2 separate regions of the Homo sapiens genome follow, and region 2 is linked to region 1. Evidence: fine-mapped expression QTL. Tissue or cell type: whole blood. Region 1 holds a variant in brackets; the other region holds the start of a gene. All regions are shown on one strand. Distances are from middle to middle.

Evidence for each region. PIP is the estimated chance that this variant, and not a neighbour inherited with it, causes the effect.
Region 2: PALD1 starts here. The variant in region 1 is fine-mapped to the expression of PALD1 in whole blood (TOPMed, PIP above 0.99).

What each region holds. Positions count from the first base shown.
Region 1 is chr10:70,509,240-70,517,416 of GRCh38, reverse strand. All of the region lies in intron 1 of PALD1 (phosphatase domain containing paladin 1), which reads right to left. Among named protein-coding and RNA genes, the nearest start is that of PALD1, 35 kb to the right of the region's middle. RefSeq lists enhancers at 2,906-3,440, 3,523-3,572, 3,441-3,976. The variant T/A (reference allele first, on the strand shown) is at 4,081.
Region 2 is chr10:70,475,368-70,483,544 of GRCh38, reverse strand. PALD1 (phosphatase domain containing paladin 1) reads right to left here and starts at 4,778. Exons shown (of 20, transcript NM_014431.3): 1 at 4,486-4,778. RefSeq lists enhancers at 123-670, 2,164-2,805, 2,983-3,162, 2,806-3,448, 6,993-7,072 and silencers at 4,443-4,892, 5,093-5,162.

The DNA of each region.
Region 1 (8,177 bases):
TGAGCTGAGATTGCACCACTGCACTCCAGCCTGGGTGACAGAGCAAGACTCCATCTCAAAAAAAAAAAAAAAAATGAACACTTAAAAAGGGGTAATTTCATTGTATGAACGCTACCTCAGTAAATCTGTTAAAAACAAGAGGTGTCCCCATCCTTTGTCCCACAATGTTCTCCTCTCGTGACACCTTCCCACTGAGCTCCGTCATTCATCAGCTGTGCAACCTTGGCCCCATAACCTCTCTGGACCTCTGCTGCCACTTCTGTGAAATGGGAACAACAGTAGCACCTCCTTCATGGGGTAGTTGCGAAAGTTAAATAATATCTTGTGGGTAAAGACCTCAGAAAAGGGCCTGGCCAATAAAGGTAAGGTGATTCTAGGTGTTTGGGGGACACTGGCCCATTGGCCTCTGAAGCTGGGCTGTGTGCCTTGTGATCACTGAGCCCTGGAAATCTGGCTGGTCCACACTAGGACATGCTGCAAGTGTAACATACATACCGGATTCTGAAGACTAGCTACAAAAAAAAAAATACAGTAAAATATCTCATTAACAATGTATATTGGGGCTGGGCACAGTGGCTTATGTCCATAATAGCACATTGAGAGGTCGAGTCAGGAGGATTGCTTGAGCCCAGGAATTTGAGACCAGCCTGGGCAACACAGAAACGCTGTCTCTGCCAAAGATAGAAAGAAAAAAAAATGGCCAGGTGTGGTGGTGCATGCCTGTAGTAGCAGCAACTTAGAAGACTGAGACAGGAGGATCGCTTGAGCCCAGGAGGTCAAGGCTACAGTGAACCATGATCGAACTACTGCACTCCAGCCTGGACAAGAGTGAGACTCTGTCTCAAAAAATAAAAAACTAAGAACCAAAACATAGTTTATGTTGATTACATCTCAAAATGATAATCTTTTGATATACTGAGTTAAATAATATATGTTATTAAAACTAAGTTCACTCATTCATCTGTATTTGAAGGCAGCTGTTTAAAGTGCCACACAAGGCTGGGAGCGATAGCTCACACCTGTAAGAGGCTGAGGTGGGCGGATCACTTGAGGTCAGGAATTCAAGACCAGCCTGACCAACATGGAAAAACTGTGCCTTTTTTATAAAAATACAAAAATTAGCCAGGCGTGGTGGTTGCACGCCTGTAGTCCCAGCTATTCGGGAGGCTGAGGCAGGAGGATCGCTGGAACCCAGAAGGCAGAGGTTGCAATGAGCTGAGATCGCACCACTGCACTCCAGCCTGGGCAACAGAACGAGACTCCATCTCAAAAAAATAAAAATAAAGTGCCACACGTGGCTCCTGTGAGATTTCTACTGGGTGGCACTGCTCTGAGTCTTAAGTCCTCTGTGACCCTGAGGACACCTCTTGCTCAGCTCAGGGTACTCAGGGCTGAGCCCAGTGCCTGTGGCAGGTAAGAGTTTAATAAATATCTGTTAGAGGCATGCAAAAGCCCCAGAAAGTTGGTGTTTTCATTCCCATTGAACAAAAAGAAAAGCGAGGGCTTGCAGGAGTGGCAACTCTTCACATCCTGACCCCTGGCTGGGGACACAGGGCTTAGGCTCTGTGAATCGTGGGCTCTGGGCAGGACACCAGCTGAACCCCACTTCTATCATGCATTAGTCACATTATCTTGGGTTCATGGCTTGATTTCCCCAAACTGTTTCCCCAACTGTAAACTGAGGACCACCGGTACCTCCCCTGCTGGACCGTATAAAGATGAAATCAGTGAATGTGTGCAGAGCAACACCTGGATGGCCCGACACACAGCACAGCGAGGGCTCCAACTCCTCATCTGCCCTGACCTCATCCCCCCACACCATGGCTGACCCTGCACTGAACTCCCAGCAACTGCCAGCTGCCACAGACGTGAACCTTCAGGACCAGGACTAGAACCAGGGGCCTCGCCCAGGCGCCATCTGTGAATGGCCAGCAGTCCCTGGCTCTCAACCAAGGCAGCCAGCAGGGCAGAGCCAGGCTGGGCTGGGCCACAGCAGCCACCCTCCTTAACAACCACGATCATCACATCACTCTCCTCATTCTGCTTTGTCTGGTAAGCCATTCGGGATAGGTTCCCATCTGCTCTTGGCCTTCCTCAAGAACCAGGAGGCCCCAGCTCTGTTCTGGGCCCTCGCACAAGTCCTCCACCCCTGGAAGAACAGGTGCCCAGCCTGAGTCAGCCCAGTTCTCTCCAACCCTCTGCCCCCACCAGCTTTGGGCCACTAGCACCTGACTGACCTATCTCCTTCCCTTTTGAATCTGATCCAAGAGGGCAGGGCAGAGTCTCTCCATCACTTTACCTCCCCACCCTGTCTGGTTACTGATGATGGGCCAAGGCTGGTTCTCAACAAGTAGGCACCAAAGACTGGGGGCCATCTACTTCAACAGCAATGGTACTTATTCCTGAGTAGTGAGCTGCAGGGTGATATTTATTTTCTTCTGTTTTGCTCATCCATCGCTTCTAAACATCTTACAATGAACATGATTACCCTAGGAACATTTTCTTTTTAAGTTTAGTTATTTGTATAAGTTTCCAAGTTGGGCAAAGGTCACAACTCTTCACCCAGAGAACCCTCACCCCACCCACCTCAAAGCACCCCATGCTCCTCCGGCCCCGTGTCCTTAACCCTGGCCCTCTGCCCAGGCGCACTCTGCCCACTGCAGCGCGTGTTCCCCTGACAATAATTCCACTTGTACAGTCTGGTAGGATTTTTGTGTCTTTGCTACAGCCCTCAAGAGAGCCGAGAATTAGGATCCCCAGTTTACAGAAGAGGTGACGGCTGAGCAAAGTCAAAGACATGAACCTCCCAGGTGACAGGCTTCATGGAGGCAGAGGCTCCTGGCCCCGACTCCTTCATCTCTTGGGGGTCCCACAGACCCATCCTTCATGACCTCTGCCCCTCAGCCTCTTTCTCTTTAAAACTAGGAAGAGTCCAATCTAAATGTTAAAATAAAGCTGTCTGGGGGCTGGGATCACAGGAACCCTTCACCTGCTAAATTATGTGTTTCTCAAGTGTTTTTATATTTTTCTAAACTAGAAAAAAAATAGTTTAAAAGTTAAAAACAGAAATTAGAGGACGTGTGGAAATGCAGTCCTTTGCTCTGCAGGCGGGGCTGCCACTGCGGGGGGCAGCCCTGACTTCCAGCCTTCAGCCTGCAATCCCTGGGGAGCCTTTGAAGCAAGCGCCAAGTCCTGGCAGGAAGGAGGCCTCATGGCTGCCACACACTGAGATGACAAGTCAAGGTGGGCATGCAGCAGGAAGTGGGCAAAGGTGGACAGAATGACCGGACGGCCCGCAGAGGCACTGTGGCACATGGAGGCCAGCACCCAGGGCCAGCAGAGTGTGGGAATGCAAATCAGGTCGGCCCACTGAGTGGAGAGAAGCTGTGGAGGGATGGGGAAGTCCCTGCCCGCCCTCAGAGAGCAGGGGGAAGCCTCCCTCTCAGCTCACCTGGCAGGCGGGTTCTCGGGATGACAAAGCCTGCCCCGCAGCCAGCAGCGGTCCCTGGGTCACCGGGTGTGGGCCAGCCATCACGGGCCTGCAGGTTCCTGGAATTCAGGACCTTTTCCAGCACCCCTAGTTGCCTGCCTCCAAGTGGGTCTGCTCTGCCGCTCTGTCTATGGGATCTCAGATTGGGGAGCAGGGAAAGGCTGTAATGAGCATTTTGAGGACAACTGGGAAAATTTGAGGATGGAGTATATGCTGGATAAATAAGTTAACATCCTCAGATTGTGGCTAAAAGGAGAATGCCCTTGTTCTTAGGAAATACAGGCTGAAGCGTTTGGGGGTAATGCCTCTTGATGTCTGACGTTCATGATTTAGAGAGAGAAGTAAATGGAACAAATCTTACCTGGTGTTGGCAGACAGGAGTTTACTTACTGCACTCTTCCTTTTTTTTGATCTTTTGAGATGGATTCTCACTGTGTCGCCCAGGCTGGAGGGCAGTGGTGCAATCTCGGCTCACTGCAACCTCCGCCTCCCGGATTCAAGCAATTCCTGCCTCAGCCTCCCAAGTAGCTGGGACTACAGGCATGTGCCACCACTCCTGGCTAATTTTTTAATTATTTATTTATTTATTT[T/A]TTTTGCAGAGATGGGGTTTCACCATGTTGGCCAGGCTGGTCTCGAACTCCTAACCTCAAATGATGCACCCACCTCGGCCTCCCAAAGTGGTGAGATTACAGGCATAAGCCACCGCACCCGGCGAACTCTTTCAATTTGTCTGTAGGTTTAAAATTTTTCCAAATAAAAAAATGGGGGTTAAAAAATTTCAAAAGTAAAACTGAAAAAAGTGTTAAGCTGTCTTATGAGAAGTGCTCCATGGATTCCTCCTGGTTCTGCCCTTGAGGACCCAGAGGATTCATCCTCACTGGAGGGAGACGGCTTGTGGCCCACAGGCAAAAAGGGGTCGGTCTCAGGAGCAATCTGTATGATCATCATAGTTTTGTATTTTCCACTCTAATTAGCCACCCGTAGTTTGAAATCAATGAATTTCAAATAAAAATCTAGATCTCCGGCTTCTCTTGATGAATTAAAAAATGTGCAACAACAAGGTGCCACTGGAGGAGGTGAGCAGGGGGTGGGCTTGGGCAGGGATCCCTGCAGTCCACCAGGCTGGACTTCCACACTGTACTTGGGCCCTGCCCTGGCCTCTTGTGGGCTACAAGGAGACAGTGCTCCCAGTCTAACCCTGTCCTGGGGTGGGCCTTCCACTGCTTACCGTGTTCACTTGTGTCCCAGAACCTGCAGAGCTTCCTTACTTTTCCCAAGCCTTTCAGTCCCCGCTTCTTGGCCACTGTCCTATGAATGAGCTTGGCCCTTGCCCTCGGGCCTCAGCAGCCCAGACACAGACCACACTTTCTTGGCATGCTCTGACCACACTAAGAAGAGGTCGCTGCCTCCCTAATTCTAACCACTGCCACTGAGCTGTCTGCTAACACCTCTAAAGCCTTTCTCCCTCGGGCTCAGCCCCTGCTTCCCCCTTCCTGGCCTACAGCATGTGGCTTTCTGGTCCCAAGGCAGGACTGATGTCCCCATTGGGAAATCTCTCTGTGAGAGACTCAAGCCCTGAAGCTCTGGTCCAGCTTTTCAGCCTGGAAATGGCCCAGATTTAATCAAAAATCTCACAATGCCTTCATCCCCCAGAAGCAGGGACAGCCAGCTGAGCACACAGCTGCCCAGAGCCAAGACTGCATTCCCCACCTCCCTTGCAGCGACCTGGGGCCATGTGACTAACAGGCTAACAGTACTGCTATGGTTTGAATGGCCCCTCCAAAACTCATGTTGGAATTTAATTGCCATTATAATAGTATTAAGAGGCCTTTAAGAGGTGTGATTAGGCCATGAGGGCTCTGTCCTCACGGTGGATTCAATGCCTTTTTTTTTTCTCTTTTGAGACGGAGTCTCGCTCTGTCTCCAGGCTGGAGTGCAATGGCGCGATCTCAGCTCACTGCAACCTCCGCCTCCCAGGTTCAAGTGATTCTTCTGCCTCAGCCTCCCGAGTAGCTGGGACTACAGGCACCCGCCACCACACCCGGCTAATTTTTGTATTTTTAGTAGAGATGGGGTTTCACCATGTTGGCCAGGCTGGTCTCGAACTCCTGACCTCATGATCCACCTGCCTCGGCCTCCCAAAGTGCTGGGATTACAGGCGTGAGCCACCACGCCCCGCCCTCAATGCCTTTTAAAATTGGGATTTGGGGAGTGAGTTTTATCTGTTTCACATGCTCACCTGCCCTTCTGCCTTCTGCCATAAGAGGACACAGCAAGAAGGCCTGCACCAGATGCCAAGCAGATGTCAGTGCTGTGCTCTTAGACCTCCCAGCCTCCAGAATTGTAAGTCAAATAAATTTCTGTTCATTATAAATTACCCAGTCCATGATATTCTGTGATAGCAGCAGAAAATGGACTAAGACAGGGACATAAGCGTCAGTATAAGATGCCAAGTTCTGGAATCCTTCCTTACAAGACCCCTTTCCTCCCTGTCTCGATCCTGCTGCCTGGACACAGATATGATGACTTAAGTTTCACAGCCATCTTGAACCATGAGCCCTTGAAGCCACAGCCTGGGAACAGTGCGGTGGACATCAAGTTCCCCAAGGAAACTATAGGGTAGAGCTACTATACCAGACCTGGTCTGCAAAACTCTGGGCTTAGACAGGACGAAGAAATAAACTTCCAAGTTGTGTAAACCACTGTTATTTGGCTTTTCCTATTACTTGCAGCCAAATCTAATCCTGATTAATGCACTCTGTTATTTTTAGGTTTGACCCTCAGTGATCACATGCCACATGGGAACAGGGGAGAATTTATTTCTTTCTCCTCTTGCAGGAGAATGTCAAGTTTCCCTACTGGTGAAAGCCAGGCTACACTGTGGGCTGGCAGCTCCACGTTTGGGCGGAGTGACTCCAGGATCCTGGGAGCCCAGGATCCAAGTGTGTGGTTCACAGAACGTAATCCCTGCCCACCAGGGCCTGCAGGATAGCTAAGGATACACACACGAGATGCACACCGTTAGAGCACCATCCACTAACTGCGAGACAGCATGGTGAAGCAGCTTTCCCTGAGTCAGCTGCAGAGATTTCGAAAGTCCCAAGCCGCTAAATGTTTGTTCCACCTTATAGATAGAGACCTGGCCTCTACTGCTCCAAAATGGCAGAGAAAGACCACAAGCCTCTCTGCATCTGGAGGGCAGTCTCTCCTTTTCCCTCTAGGGAGCCTTCTGAGACAAGGAAGTCCCTGGGAAGCGAGAAGGTGTTACCTGGATGGGAGGGACCCTGCCCTGTTGGTTCTTTCAGGAAGGAGCAGAGGGAGGGGAGTGTAACAATTAGGAAGGAGCTGGTCAACTCACGGAAAGGCAATGCCTTCTTCTGAAAAAGGCTGGCTCCTGTCTATCTCTAGGTTCCATGCAGCCAGGTGTTGGGGGCAAATGCCTTAGGGAGGGGGGCCCAGGGAGAATAGGGTTAAGAGTATCTGGAATGCTCATGTGCTCACTTCCAGGAAGTCAGGCATTTGGACATTTCAAGGTCAGCAGAAACTCAGAGTGGCCTAAGACCTCACCCAGTGCTCTGCCCTGCTGACACTCTCCTGGCTGCCACCAGGGACTAGACCCAGAGTGACAGTGGGAAAGCACACTTCAGCCCCACTTCCAACCTCCAGCAATCTCCCAGGTACCTAAAGCATCATTTCAAGGAGCTGGGGAGAACCATGACCTGGATTCTGGGCATCTGTCTCCATCCCACCCACCACTGTGGCCTCCAGTCTAAACTCCTTTGCCCAGCACTCAAGTACCCCCTTAGGCACCCTCATCTCAACACCATGAATTTGCCCCACACATCCCCAATATTTTAGGCAAATCCAGATCCCAGCTGCCCCGTAGTGTTGAACAGGAAAAAAAAGCCCCACTAGAAGTTTTCCTCCAGCCCTGACTTTCCAAGAGTTCGGCACAGCCCACGCTTATTTCCATCTGGACGAGATAGATGGGTGGTTTTCAGACATTTCAGCGGCTGAATTCTTTGTGCAAAATCAATGTTTCCTGAAAGCCCTGTGTGTCCAACAGCCAGGAGCAGAGCTGGTGTACTGGCTGCACGCTCAGAAGAAGCTGCAGCGCTTCCTGCCCCCAGACCCAACCTGTGCCCTCCTAGAGAGAAGTTCCAGAGCTGCCCCACAGAGCTGCTCAAGGCCCTCAAGGTCCTCCCAGGACCTAAGGCCCTTCCCTGCCCTCACCCTTGTGGGTCCCACAACCAGGCACGCCAGGCCACCCTCACCCCCTTCAGTACATCCATCAACATCCAGTGGAAATGAATGGGCCTCCTGCTCCAAGCCAAGCAGCACTCAGCCTGTGCTCCACCCAGCCTGGCCCTGACCCCGGTGGCCTGGTGTTTCCTAAGTACATGCCTCACCTCCCCACTCTGGGTCTGATGTTCCTTCTGTGGGGCAGCCCTACTAACAGGATTCAGCCCACAATAGTTGTAGATTCCAAATGCCACTTTACCAAGTGCATTTCACATTGGAACTTCAGGACAACCTTATGAGGAAGGGAGAAGCACAGGGCAACTGTCCCATCAAGCAGGTGAAAAAACAGGCCAGAGAGTTCTCTACAGTACAAGACAGAGCCCAGCCTCCGTTTCCGCAGCTGGCTCTTCCTGCACTTCACCTGCCACTCCCTCATTCCTCCACT
Region 2 (8,177 bases), 34 kb after region 1:
TTGGCCGTTTCCCAGGGTACCCACAGCCCTCACAGCACCACATCCTCTCTCCTTGGGGAATTTCTGAAAGCCCCAGCTCCCTGGGAGCCCAAAGCATTGGCAGTGACACACCCAGTTCCCAAAGATGTTCTCTACTGCCTTCCATGGGTGTGCAGATGACCCAGACACCCCACCTGCCTCTCTCATCAGTGCCCCAGCTTCAGCCCAGGCAGGGGCACCCCTTAAAGCCAAAGTCAGCCCACATGCCAGTTATGGGAAATACACAAAACGCTTCACAAGGGCTGTCACACCTCTGCCACGCTGCTCTTTCTGCTGGGGAAGCCTTGCCCTCCTCCTTTGCAAACTCCTGGCCATCCCTCAAAGCCCACGTGAAGTATCACACACACCCCAGGCCAGCCATTCCCTCCCTCAGGCTCCAACCATAACTAGCACAGACCCCATCACAGAACCAGACATGGTGTCTGCATGTACCTCACTCACCTCCTGGCAGGGACAGAGTTTAATCTACCTTCGGAGCCCCTGCACCTCATACTGAACCCAGGGCCAAGAAAGCTCAGGAACCCACATCAAGATGCCACGCTGGTCCCTTCCCACCAACTGGTCCTGTGCAAGCATCCTGGCCTCTGCTGAGAGAATAACATCGTGGTAATAACATAAGCACCTAATGTTTACTGAGTACTTCCTAGGAGCCAGACAGCCTCGGAGGCTCTCTGCGATTACCTCCTTTCATCCTTGTGACATTCTCATAAGGGAGTTGCTATCCTTAACCCTGTTACACAAGGGACTTGAGGCACAGAGAGGTTAAGTTTCTTGCCCTGGGCCACATGGCTAATGAGGGAGGGAGCAGAAATTCAGACCCTGGTAGTTTCTTTCCAGAGCCAGTGTTCTTAATCACAACAGGTCTATTTGCAGGTAGGAAGATGGTCGAGGCAGATGTGTCAGGAAAAGCCCTGAGTGGAAAAGGAACTCAGGGATTATAAAGGCCAGTGCTTCCAGACCTTCTCTTTCCCCGGGTCCCAGCCAAAGGCCTCGGAAGACAAACAGAGCCTCCTCCCAGACTAAGCCTGCTGCTCCCAGGCTCAATCCTGTGCTGAGCACCAGTTACAGGAAACATAAAAAGTCCATCTGCAAGTGCCTTGGCCCAAGACAGGGGCAGCACATGGCTGGGCTGCCCTCTGGGAAACGAAAGCCATGATTTGGGACTATTCTTAGCAAACACTGGCTCCCCTCCCAGAGGCCCAGCAGTCAGCAGGCCCAAGCTTCCATACGCCCGCCCAGCCTGCCATTTCCTGACCCCGTGTATGGAGGTCCCACAGGGCTAAGGAGGGACTAGTGGGCACCGACTGAGGACAAAGCCCTCCAGCTTTCACAGGAGAGGTGCCTGGCCCACCCAGCCTGCTCCAGACCTCACCCAGAGGCCCAGGGCCATGCACCTGGCTGCTGAGGAAGCCCTGCAGAGTCCTGGCCACAGGGGATGGCTCATAATCAAAGGCCCCCACCGCCACATCAACTGAGCACTCACTCCATGCCATGCACTGGGCCACATGCTTTGCACTGATTTTCTCCCACTGAACCCACAAGGAGGTAGAGGTTACTGACCCCACTCTAAAGATGAGGAAACCAATACATTAATTGACTTGCTGGAGGTTGCATGGTGCATTAGTATCAAAGCATATCTAGAATCTGGGCTGTCTCTCAGGTGCCAGGTTGGGCAGAGGAGACCTGAGCATAGCCAGGTGGGGGACCCCTTCCCTGTGCAAGCCCACGGCTTAGCAGAGAAGGAGCCCGCCCCAGAGGGCAGTGGCTCTCATCACAGACGCAGCTACATGTGTGCTCTCTCTCTCACCTGGGGGATCCCTGTCAAAGACCCGCAGGCTTGGGTTCAGAAGGAGAATCCCCAGACAGTTCCTCTCCTATTCTGGTAGGAAAGGAACAGTTGGAGCACCCTACCCAGGCCACACAGCCTCACTTCAGGAAGCCTCTGGAGATCCAGGGAAGATGAGAATCAAAATTCAAAGAGCACCTGCTGGCACTTAAGGCACAAACACAGCCTTGTAATGCAGAGGTGGAGAGGCCAAATGACTCTGAGTAAAACACAGGAGACTGAGCTTTTTGGGGTCCTCAAACCCCAAAGTGAGAGTCTAGAAATAAGCTCCACCACAGAGCACCTGTACCATCACCACCCCAAACAGGACAACTTCCGGGCACTGTGCCACGCAGGGAAACAGTGATAACCAGGCAATGCACGCCTCGGCCTACCTCTCAGAACCCACCTGTGTCTGGTTCCTGGCCTCTGCTGTCCGCTGGCTCTGGCAAGCATATGTGTCTGTGCCCCCCAGGAGCTCACAGCCAACTCCATTCTGCCCAGGCACTTGAGCGGCTTCCCTGTGGCTCCGAGTCTTTTGTCTGGGAATGTCGGTTCCCATCCCCGTCTGTGCTCTGCTGGGTCTACCTATATGTCTGTCCACTTACATGTCTGCCTCCCATGTGGGGAGATTCAGATCCCAGCAATGGTGTATTTCTATGTACGTGTCTGCAGCCCATACGTGGCCCACGCTGATGGGTTCATGTATGTCTGTCCCCGCACATGTCTGTGTCCCTGGGTTGTTTGCTCACCCCCACCATCCTCCTGTGTCTGTCCTCAAGTATATATGTATCCAGCTCCTCTACGTCTCTGCCCACACAGATGTAAACCTGAGCACACACACGCACTCACGTCTCTGCCCACACGGGGCATCCCCCACAGGTGCCTGGGTAACCCAGGTCTGTGCACCACCTGTTTGGAGGCAGGCAAGTGTGTTCACACAAGTTCTCACAGTGCCAGCCAAGGGCTTCGGGTGAGCTCAGCAACTCCCACTCCCAGAACTGCACCCAAGGCCACGAGCATGAGCACACTGCCACCTCCACGAAGTGCTCCAGAAAAACAGAAACCTGCCAGGGACAATGAGGGAGGGGGCAGGGCCCCAGATACAGCAGAGCCTCACAGAAGTGAGGTCAGAGCTGTGCCAGGAACCACCCACCTCAAGCCACCTGGGCCCTACTGTGCCCACCCCCAACACTGGCCAGGAAAGGGAGGGGGGTGCATGCACCACCTGGGGTCTGTCTGCACTCATAGGAAACTGGCCCAGTGCCTGCCAGCCTCCCGACCTACCCCAACCCCCCGCGACAGAGGCTCTTCAGAAAGGAAGTGAGGACTTCCTCCTGCTTACCTCTGAACCTCCTACAAGGCTGGCTCTAGACCCCAAACCCCAGGAGCCACAGGGCAACTAGGAGTGTCCTGTGCTCAGCCCAAGCCAAGAAACCAAATGGGTTATTTCAGAAATCCACCAGCAGGAAACAAACAAACCTGGGAGTGGGTGGGGATGAGTGCAGGAGAACCTCCTCAGCGCCCCTGCTGCTCCCTGCCCTTGGAGCAAGGTAATAAGGAAGGGCGGGCATGGAGCTGGAACATTTCAGCACATTTGCTTGCTTGCATGGAACTGGATCTCTGCTGCCCTGGCACTCTCGCAGCCTACATTACTCACATAGCAATTAATGGTGTGTAGCCTCTTGGCTTTCCACTATTACCAGTTCAGGACTGGTATTGAAACCCTGTATCGGGGAACTTTGTGTGTTTATGTCCTGTCTTGCCCCCAGGGGCTGAGCCTCCTGAGGACAGAATCCTCCAAATCCTCCTCCATCCACACATTCCAGGGGCACGGCCCAGTGCCCTTCCTGGCATTTAAGAGGTGCTCGGCCACTGGGTTCAGGTTACTCTACCCAGAAGCCAAGGAGTTGGTTCCTGGGCCTCTGGCTGGGAGAGTAGAGATGCCCAGAAGATTCCCTGGGCCATGAAGCTTTACTCCCATCTCTGACAACCCAAGAGAAAGGGCTCCAACCATCCCGGCCACCTTCAGGAGCCGGGTCTCCCATAGGCCACTCTCTCTCTGACAGGTTACTGCCCCTTCAGGAAAACCCTCTGAAACTGAAAAACGTACTCTCCTTGGAGACCCGGGCCTACAGAGGAAGAGGGCCAGACTGGGCCAAGAATCAAAGCCTGTGCCCGCTGAGACTTCTGGACTCGTCCTGGGTCTGAGGGCCTCACGCCCCCTAGAGATGAGTCCCAGGACCCCATCTCGGTCATGAAGCGGCTTCCCTCTCCCCAATCTCCCCCTAACTTCGCGGGAAACCCTAGCTCCTGGCCATGCTCCCAGGTCTGGCAATGAAAAGTGGAATTGTCACCAGGCCATGCCTACACCAAACCCAGGGAACTCGGGAGAGGGGGTAGCCCAGGGTCCAACACACACAACCACCCAGCAACTGCTCCCTGTGAGTCCCTCTTGCCTCCCAGGGACCAATCCTGAGCGGGTGTGGGGTGAAGGCCCAGGACCTCACCTCTCCAAAGGATGGGGAGTTGGTGTCTGGAGCAGCCTCGGGCTGGGGGGTGCCCGGGGGATTCCAGATTTGCCCTCCCCTCGCCAGCCCCAGGGCAGGACACTTCGGTACCTGCCAGCCCGCGGCTCCGGGGGGCATCCGTGCTCCTGCGGCCGGCGTGCTGCGCCCGAACTGCGGGCGCCGAGTCAGGCAGCGACGGGGCGCGCCCGGCGCGCGCTCTGGCTCCAGCTCGCTCCTCCCAACTTCGCCAGCCCATGCGGGGGCAGAGGTGGCTCCGGAGGTGGGCAGGCCAGGCGGACCCGGCGAGGCCACGCGAGAGGGAGCCCGTGCTCACCGGCGACGGGACCTGCGCGCCCCGGCCCGTGCGCGCCGCGCTGCTCCCCAGCGCCCCGCTACCCAACGCCGAGGGGCGGACCCGACCCGGCCGCCAATCACCGCGCCCGCCCCCGCCCGGACCGCGAGTCCCGGCCCCACCGCGAGGGGCGGGGGGCTCAGATTTAAAGACACACTCAGCCCAGCCGCAGCCCCCGGGCGGGAGGAACGCGGGCGCCACGTTCCCCGGCTGCGCTTCCTCCCTCCGCCCGCCCACCCTCCGCGAGGAGGAAAAGTTTGGGGCGGGGGAGACTGCCCGGGAAGCCAGTTCCTCTTCCCTCGTCGCTAGTGCGGCTCCTTCTGGAAGACACCCAAACCCGACATCCAGCCTCCTGGCTGCGAGAGGCAGCAGCGCTCTGGGCGCCACACCCCGTCCCGGACGCCGGCTACCCGCGACACCCGCTGGCCCGGCTTCCCTCGCCCCCCTCTGCTTTACAGCCAGGCCGAGCCTCGGCGGGACCGAGCCCAGCATCCGGGCTCCGGGCCGGCCTCGCTGTGCAGTGCGGCCGGAGCTGGATGATGGTGCGCTCTGCACTTTTGCCTCCCACGTGTCGAAGGGGAGCCCCTAAACAGCAGACGGTCCCCCCAAGCAGGGGCTTCTCCCACGCCCCGGGGTCCTAAGGAAACGCGCCCCTCGGCCCCCAGAGGTGAGAGGGGAACAGCAGAGCAGAGCTTTGGATGGAGAGGGGTCCCTCCGCCCCCACCCATCATGCGGCTCCAGGCAGTGACCCGCACCATAGGCCTGCCCCCCCCACCACTCCTCACCCCACACGCGCGGACTAGCACTAGGCGGCAGCCAGCCCGGCCCACTCCGACGGCCCCGCACGCCCCCGCGAGCACGTGGGTGAACGCACCCACGTGCGTGCGTTCACTCTTCGCTGTGCTTCCTCGCGGAGAGATAGGCTTTGTTGTGGTTGGTGAGTCACTTCCTCCCTCTCGCTGCTCCACACTCGGGAAATCCTTTTTTCTCACCTGTTACCACCTGCCTCACCCCCATTCAGGACTGGAGCTGGATTTCGGCGAGCTGGGGTTGCCCCAGGATGCAGGCAGTGTAGGCCCCACCTCTGTCAGGCTGGAGAGCGCTGGGCTGGGAGAGGGGAACACATTCCCCATGACCCCTAAGAATAACTGAAGACAAGAGAAATCACTCATTGTGGTGGTCTCACCATGTCCCTAGCACCTAGCTCTTAAGTGCCTCGCGAAGTTATAAGGTCGGTACTTTTCTGATCCCTATTTTAACAAATGAGGAAACAGGCCCAGGGAAGACTTGTCCTCAGCTCCATACCTGCTCCTGCGCCACCCAAGGTGTGTGAAAAGGACAGCAGCAGAGAAAATCCCATAGTGGCCTTGGGAAACAGACCTGACCTTCAGAGTTCAGCAGAGCTAGGCTCAAAGTGGCTCACAATTTACTGGCTGTGTGGTCTGGGAAAAGTGACGTAAGTTCTCAGATTCCCAACTTCTACATCCATAAGATGGCTTCATCCTCCTTCAAAGAGGTATTTGAGAAGCCAGTGAGCTGGGCAAGTAATGTCCAGGCATCGTGTGTGGCACACTTTAGGACTCCATCCTGGGCCACAGTTTCCTTCCTTCTTCCTCTTGCCACAGCCCCATATCCCATCCCACCAGCTGTCAGACTCCCCAGCTGAAGCCTGCCATCCTGAGGATGCATTCCAGGATAATGTCCTCTTCTAGGCCAGGACTAAGGTAGGAGCAACATGTGTGTGAGCAGGTGCAAAATATACATTTACATACATGTGCATGTGTATGCACACATGTATACACATACATGCACATATATGTATACAAATATATACATAAACATGCATACCTATAGGGATGCATGCACACATATATACATACAGAAACATAGCACATACACATATGCACATAATACACACATACAAATACACACACTTTGCTTCCCCTCACCCTCCCTGCCCAGCAGATGCTGGGATCCACGGCGGTGTGCCTCTCTAGCTCCCAGAGAACAAAAGCTATGTCCTACCTGTGCCTGACCTGTCTTTTGGCCCACAGCACAGTGCCTGGCACGTCTCCATACATTCATTTGTACTCACCACACACACAGTAGGTGTTCTTGTTGAACCAAGCAGAAAAGCCCAGGACAAAGATGTTCTCAGGACAGCCTGCAGTCACAACCCTTCTGGATCTAACAGTTAGCCTCAGGGTTCAGCTGGTAGGTAGGGGGCTGAGGGCTTGGAGGTTCCTCAGGGTCAGGCCACAGACTGCATCCAAACCACAGTGCCCAGCCTCACCAGCCCACCACCAGCCCCCCAGAGGGCCTGCCAAGTCCCTACTCAGAATAGCGAGTCCTGCAGCCCTGGCTGTCTGCTGGCTATGGGGCTAGAAAAGTCCCAACCACAAGAAAGATTCAGTCAGATCTGCCCCACCGTGGGCCTGGGAGGGGAACAAGGACTGAATGTTGAAGGAGAGAAGGCCACAGAGCAGCCCTGGGTACACCCAAGAGAAGGCATCCTGCTCTCTCCCCAGCCCCAGGCAGAACGAAAGAATCAGTCGAGCCAGCTCTCAGTTGAGCCCATTTGAGCCTCTCAAACTGCAGCAGAAGATTCCTGAGAAATCTGGAAGCTCAGAGCAGAAGCCCAAAATCCCCTGAGAAAAGATTCATGGGTCCCAGAACAGGATCTCAGGAAGGAGAGAGGTCGGGACTGACCCCCACTCACCCAGCACTCCACCAGCACTGCCAGCACCCACATCCCCCACACACAAACGTCCAAGACACCATGTTATCATGCTTGTATTGCTCGTGCGTGAACTCATATTTGCAGGGATCCATGTTTGTGCAAGTGTCTAGTGGGAGTGAGTGTGGCTTTATAAGTGAGCATGTGTGTATGTGTGTGTACGTGTAGCACACACACAAAGCACCTGCAACCGTCCAAAACCAGACAAGCTGCTGCTGCAAAGAATATGAGTAACCTGTTACTCACGCCCCGACAGACTCGCCTGTGGCCATCCACTGCCCCATCAGCCCAAGCAAGGTGCTGGTGCTCTTGGGAGAGAGCTCCCAAGTTCAGTTCCTGGGCAAAAACATGAGCTGTGGGAACCCCAGATTCCCTCCAGGGAACACTCAAGCCAAAAATGATTTCCTGACAGGCACAAATGACTCGCTGGAAAGCAGAGGAGCTGGGTTCAAACCAGCAAAGATGAATCTTGATCAAAGATGGGAAACAGGCCCTTGCTGCTCTTCTCTACTCCCCACTCTTCCCTGACATCTGCCACAGCTGAGGGACACTGGACCTGAGGAGTGGACAACATCAGGACATGGGCTGGCCTTGCTCCTTGTGACCACCTTACTGCCAAGAACAGGGATCATGTGCACCCTTCAGGGTGGGAGTCTTGTGGCCTGTGATTTCGCCCTGAGCCCAGTGGTCTCTGAGCCTCAGGCAAACTCATCC